Regions from separate parts of the Homo sapiens genome. Here region 2 is reported to be linked to region 1. Evidence: microRNA targets listed by miRTarBase, many of them from high-throughput screens and not tested one by one. Region 1 holds a microRNA gene; the other region holds the end of a gene's coding sequence.

Region 1 (3,053 bases):
AGTATTTACTGCTATTTTTGGCTTCCTCCCAGGAGCTCCTACAACAAAAGGGAGCCTGAGTATCTTGCCAGGAGACACCAGACCCGTGCCAGAGGGGCGGGGGCTCCCGTGGCAATGCAGGAAGCACCTTGTGCCGAGGCCCCATTACCCTCATCAGGCCCAGAGGGAAACCTGCATTTCCTCTCCCCAGGAGATTTCCCTACCCTGAGCAGCAGTCACAGCAGATAGCTCAATCACCATCCCTTCTCAGGCTGAAACTTTCTTTAGAGCAGCAAGGGCTTCCTTTCTGGGAAAGCTAGAGGAGATTCCCAAACCGTAAGGTCAAGGGGAAACTGGGGCAGTTTTATTGACGATGGCAATGTACAAGACTCCACACCTAGGTATGTGCACGAGGTAAGGCCTGAGCTCAGGCCTTATGATCCTCCTCAGGACCCTTGGGGGCAAACTTCTCCTGCAGTTTCTTCCACATGCCTTTATCTATTTCCTTAAGCTCTTCCAAGGTGTCTGCAAAAGGGGAAGACAAAAAGAGAGAGGGACTGAAGTCTAAAACTTGATGACATAGATTGGACCCACTGGGCTTTCCCGACACAAGCATGGCTTGCTTTTCACACAGTGTGTTCCTGAAAAAGGTGGAGACCCAGCTCCTGAAGAGCAGATCAAACAGGTAACAGAAGTGACCGCTTGCGGGGACTGAGCACTGTGTGCCAGACTCTGTGCCCAGCACGCTGTCAGTGGTCTCCTGCCCTCTCCTCACCCTCGGCATCAAAGCGGGATGTGCTGCTCGTTGCCCTGCTCCGTATGAGGGCAAAGAAATGGCCCTGCGCTGTCCGCTGTGCAACCCACAGACCCAGATGCTTCATCGCAAAATTTGGCCTGCTCCACACAGCCCTTCCTGTCCCCAGTTTTCAGGTGTGGAAACTGAGGCAGGAGGCAGTGAAGTAACTTGCTCAGGTTGCACAGCTGGGAAGTGGAGCAGGGATTTGAATCCTGGTGTGTGGACTCAGCACATGCTGTGGAGTTGAGCAGGCACTGGGAGGGGGATGGCCTTGGGCCTGAATCCGAGCCCATCATCTCCCACTCTGGGTCCCCTCAAGCAAATTACTTAACCCTCTACGCTTCGGGTTCCTCATCTGTAAAATGAAGATAAAAACACACATCTGCAGACAACTTGGGGAGAGGTGAAAAAGTAAGAAAAAAAAAACCACACGTACCTCAAAAGTTGTAAGGATTAAAGAAAAGCATGGAGGTAACTCGCTTGGCACACAGCCCGCACTCAATGAAAAGGCAGCCATCATCCACCACAATGCAGGCGGGAGGGGCTCTTGTTTAAGAACATACACGTCCCTACACCCAGGAACCAAAGCAGGGTTTCTTGGCCTTGGCACTACCAACACTTTGGGCCAGATAATTTTTCGTCGTGGGCTGGCCTGTGCATCACTGAAGGCTGTTTCAAAGCATCCTGGCCTCTACCCACTAATGCCAGTAGCACCGCTGCCCGCACCACCAGTTGTGACAACTAAAAATGTCTCCAGACATTGCCACATGTCCCCTGGGGGGCAAAACCATCCCCCCAGTACGGAACCATTTGTCTAAAGTCTCTAGGGCTAATGTTCCATGAAATCTAATTTTACGTGCATGTTAAATTTTAGATATTCTTATAATATTGTTTTGCTTTACCAGCCTAAATTTTCACGTTAACAAAACTACTGGAGAAAAAAAGAGTATCTTTTCTGACCAAAAAAGGTAACAGAAAAAAGCCCCTGCTCTGGAGCTTTTCCAGAAGTCCATGTTTCCAGTGTCCAGGTGGACACTGAGGCCTCCCTTAGGCGCTTTCCATGACCCCAATCCCAGGGTGGACACACACATAACCCAGAACACAGCACATTTCAGACTTGCCAGGCCCTCAAAGCCTCTCACTACAAGGTGCTGCAGGTCTTTTCTTGTCCTGTCAGAGGAAACATTTGGTAAGCTTACGCCACACAATTTGCAACAAAAATATGAGGCTTGCTGTGAAAACAAATTCTCAGCAAATTTCCTGAACTAAACTCGCTGCCAGAACAAGCTGCAGCGCGGACCAATGGCGGGACTATCTCCCAGCCTTCGTTGCTGCCTGTTTTCCACTTGCAGAGGCTGCCCTGAGGTGAACAAAACAGAGGGCAGAGGCAGGGCCTCTGGAACTTACTTCCGCCCTCACTTCAAGTTCAAACTTTGCTCAAACTGTCCAGGGCCCTCACAATAATGTGCATCAATGCTGCTAATTACACGGACCCAGGGATATAGGAGTAAATTTACACATTAAAAAAAATTGCCAATAAAGTGATTCTGCCTGGCCAAAATATCTTCACCACAGTTTCCCAGAGAGTACTGGAATAAAAATAGGGTTAGAGTTGACATGTAATAGCAGGTGACACCACCAGGTTTTAATCTCAGAAGAGAGTTTTCTAGAAGCCCAAATCCTCAAAACTTAAGTTGCTGAAGGCTGCCAGAAGAAGAGGAAAGACACATTTCTAGAATACCAGAAGGAAATGTGTCAGGGCCATGCCCTCCCAGAAAAGGTTAACCTATTTTTGTATATAATATACTTGGCAACAAAAATAGTAATTTTCCAGTACCTGCCTACTTCATCCCTGGCTCTCCGGCCCCCCTCCTTAGGGACAATGGAGATAGGGAAGTAAGGAAAGGACGGGCTTGGCAGGATGTTTCCTTTCTTGATAATCAGAGTCTATCAATGACTCTAAAACATACCTAGTTAAACTCATATCTAACCCACAGACCACGTCCCCTGGGTCACATAACTCTTAGGCGGATATCCCCAAACACGTTTATTGAATGGTTTTTTGTTTTAATTAAAACCTTCATTGTTTATAAAGCCCTCTTAAGACCATAAAAATAAAATTATTTTCCTTCCATCCTGATTTCAACTACTTCCATTTGGCAAATAGGTATTCCTCTGTTCCCTGATGCCCAGCCTTGAATTTAAAAGCCCTAAAGATAGATTTTCTTTTTTAAATAACGCCTTTGACCTTCTCCACAGTATATGGTCAAAATGCATG
Region 2 (3,523 bases), not on the chromosome of region 1:
TATGATTCCTTTTACTGTTCGACTTGAAACCCACAAGAGTGTGACGTGGGCATGAGGATAGGCATGGGTTTACTGGTTTACTAGATGGGGGCCGCCAGGACCTCCCTGAGAAGCTGAAGCCCCCTCCCACAGTAACCGTCCTCTCCCCTCTGATGACACAGAATGGGCCAGGGCTGCTCATTTTGGCTGAAAATCACAGCTCTGTTCTTTTCTTTTTCTTTTTTCTTTCTTTTTTTTTTTTGAGACAGAGTCTCACTCTGTTGCTCAGGCTGGAGTGCAGTGGCATGATCTCAGCTCACTGCAACTTCCACCTCCTGGGTTCATGCAATTCTCCTGCCTCAGCCTCCCGAATAGCTGGGATTACAGGCATACATACCATGCATGGCTAATTTTTGTATTTTTAGTAGACATGGGGTTTCACCATGTTGGCCAGGCTGGTCTCGAACTTCTGACCCCAAGTGATCCACCTGCCTCAGCCTCCCAAAGTGCTGGGATTACAGGCGTGAGCCACCGCACCTGGCCAAGCTCTGTTCTTTTCAAATCCCAATCCCTGGGAAGGCACAGTGCCCTCTCCAGGTCCACCTGTGAGCAGGGCAAGGCTGGGCCACTCCACCAGCTCCAGGGGGCCGCGGTCCTGTACATGCCATGCAGGCAGCACAGAACGTTCCAGCCCCAGGCTTTTTGTCAGTGTGGCTTTTGAATGTCACTGCATCCCGCAAGAGACACCGTAATGCTGTTTTAATTATTTCTTTCCCCTGCTGGGAAATCACCTCCATCAAAATGGCTATTCTGAACCCATCCCCAGCCTAGCAACAGCCGGAACTGAGAGGGAATATTAAACTGTTTTCTAAAACTTCGGTGTTGGCATTCGATTTCATATCAAAACTTACTCCAAAGCTCTGATCTGCGGCAGGAAGACAAAAAGCTAACAAGATCAGAAAGGCCAGGCTCACTACGGAGAATGCTGAGAGATGCCAAGGAAGGGGGCTGCTTTGCAGCAGGTGCACCCCAGGGGGTCAGCGGGTCATCACCCTGGGAAGGAGCTGGGGGAGGGGGGGGCGCCACAGCGAGGGACTGACTGCGACCAGAGGCCAGCCCAGAAAGCATGGCCGATGGGATCCCCAGTTCTCTGCAGAGCTGGGGTGAGCGAGGGGGTGAACAACCCATAACTGAGTGAGCAGCGACTCCTTTTATAGGATACTCTAAGGGAGATGCTCTCAGGGCTACAGGGAGAGTAACATGAACACTTCATATCCTCCCGGTACAAGGCAAATTATGCCCCCCACAAATCCACATGCTGAAGTCCTAACCCCAGCACCTCTGATGTGATGGTATTTGGAGACAGGGTCTTTATGGAGGTAATCAAGATTAAATGAGGTCATATAAGTGGGCCCTAATCCAATAGGACCGCAGCCCTTCTAAAAAGAGGGGTGCAGGCTGGGCATGTCCGCTCATGCCTATAATCCCAGCACTTTGGGAGGCTGAGGTGGGTGGGTCGCTCAAGCCCAGGGGTTTGAGAACAGCCTGGGCAACATGGTGAAACCCCATCTCTACAAAAAATACAAAAATTAGATGGGCCTAGTGGTGTGCACTTGTGGTCCCCGCTACTTGGGAGGCTGAGGTGGGAGGATCAATTGAGCCTGGGAGATCAAGGCTGCAGTGAGCTGAGATGGCACCACTTTACTCCTGGGTGACACAGTGAGAACTTGTCTCAAAAAAAAAAAAAAAAATAGGCTGGGCACAGTGGCTCACGCCTGTAATCCCAACACTTTGGGAGGCTGAGGCAGGCAGATCATGAGGTCAGGAGATCAAGACCATCCTGGCCAACATGGTGAAACCCCGTCTCTACTAAAAATACAAAAATTAGCCAGGTGTGGTGGCACCTGCCTGTAATGCCAGCTACTTGGGAGGCTGAGGCAGGAGAATCGCTTGAACCTGGGAGGCAGAGGTTGCAGTGAGCTGAGATCACACCACTGCACTCCAGCCTGGTGACAGAGCGAGACTCTGTCTCAAAAAATAAAAACAAAAATAAAAAATAAAATAAAAGAGGCGGTGAGGACACAGACACACAGAGGGGAGACCATGTGAAGACACGGGGAGAAGCCGGCATCTACAAGCCAAGGCGAAAGGCCTGAGGATGTAATTCTCTGATGTCTGAGCCACTCCCCTGTGGCACTTTACTACACAGTGCCAGTGAACCAATGCACCCCCCTCATTTTAAAGTTTCCAAAGATGCATTCATTCCCAAAAAGGGCCTCTGAAGGGGAAAGCTGTGACCCAAGCTGTCTCAAGCAGCACAATTAGAGCCATCTCCAGACCCAGCCCCTCAACCACAGCAAGAAATTAAGAAACGTCCCCAGCAGACAGCTCCTTTCAAGGACTGTGGGAGCTGGGCCATCCTGAGTCTTGGATGTTTGTGCAAAACCTACATTAAAACGAGTGACCAAGAAGTGATAGGAATGTGGGTGGAGGACACCCATGTCACATCTAAGCTTCTGGGACTTTAAAGTTTTTCAAACTGCAAAACCCTTTTATTTTTAATAAAAGGCCTCACTTCCAAGGAGAGCCCAGCCCAGGAGATCCCCGGTGAATCGTCAAGCCTGGGTCCTCGGGGAGCCGGCGTTCCTGCTGAGCTGATGTTGTACTTCTGAAGGCCTGTGATCGCTAACTGCACCATGAGGCAGAATGCAGGGTGCTCTCAACCAGCTGGGGGTTGGGGTTCAGGCTTTTTTTCATCTTTCGGCCAAGGCAGACAACAACGGACTCATCATCCCACGCGACTGAGTGACGCGAGGCTTCAAACGCAAGCACGAGTGTTTAGAATCCTGCATTTTCAAAGGCTCTTGCCCACTGGGAACTACATGGAGAGGAGATTAAGAACAACAACCAAAAGAGGCAGGGGGTGGGGCAGGCGTGAGGTAGGGGTGGGGTGGGGATGACAGTCAACACAGCTTGGACCAGAAGCCCATGGCGCCTGGCTCCCTGGAAAGGCACAGGGCACAGACGGATGCCGCCTTTCTTGCTGGGACACTCCTGCCACCATCCACAGCTCCCCCGTCACTCCACGTTCTTGTACTTGGTGAACAGGTTGTAAAGAACCCTCAGGGTGGATTTGAGGTCCAAGTTAACCACGTCTGCAGAAGGAAACAGAGAAACTTCAGAGGCGTGCCATCCTCCTGTCATTGCGGTAGGTACTCTCAGAAGCCACGTCTCCAGCATGACACCAGCTGCCGCATCCACACACAGCGCTTCCCCTTAAAGACTGGCCACCACCATGTCCAGGACGCTCTGGGCAGTGCCTCCCCAGACACACAGGTTTTGTGAGAGCTCCTGGCGCGGGCTGACACCCTGCGGGGACAGGCACCTGGGGTGACAAGAACAGAGACACTCCCACAGCCCCTCCTGGATCTGCATCAGGACATGTCTAAGAACCGGTTGGGGGACATGGCTAATGACACTTACCGGGACCAAAAACCCCAGTAACACTTAATGGACCCGACAGCTCCCTCTGGGGCCCTGGAAG

Evidence for each region. Region 1 holds the annotated microRNA hsa-miR-3934-3p (UGCUCAGGUUGCACAGCUGGGA, at 945-966, shown strand). A microRNA usually pairs through its seed, bases 2 to 8, with sites in the 3' UTR of a target mRNA and lowers its output. Matches are read on the target gene's strand: a 7mer-m8 pairs with bases 2 to 8, a 7mer-A1 pairs with bases 2 to 7 and ends in A, and an 8mer does both.
Region 2: the mRNA of PARVB is a reported target of hsa-miR-3934-3p. Seed matches in the 3' UTR shown: 8mer at 262-269.

The regions. Positions count from the first base shown.
Region 1 is chr6:33,697,247-33,700,299 of GRCh38, forward strand. It overlaps MIR3934 (microRNA 3934), which reads left to right and starts at 882; the gene lies at 882-988. UQCC2 (ubiquinol-cytochrome c reductase complex assembly factor 2) reads right to left here. Exons shown (of 4, transcript NM_032340.4): 4 at 1-504. The coding sequence ends at 407. RefSeq lists an enhancer at 310-1,285.
Region 2 is chr22:44,168,213-44,171,735 of GRCh38, reverse strand. It overlaps PARVB (parvin beta), which reads right to left. Exons shown (of 13, transcript NM_013327.5): 13 at 1-3,134. The coding sequence ends at 3,058. Among named protein-coding and RNA genes, the nearest start is that of PARVG, 11 kb to the left of the region's middle. RefSeq lists an enhancer at 1,118-1,639.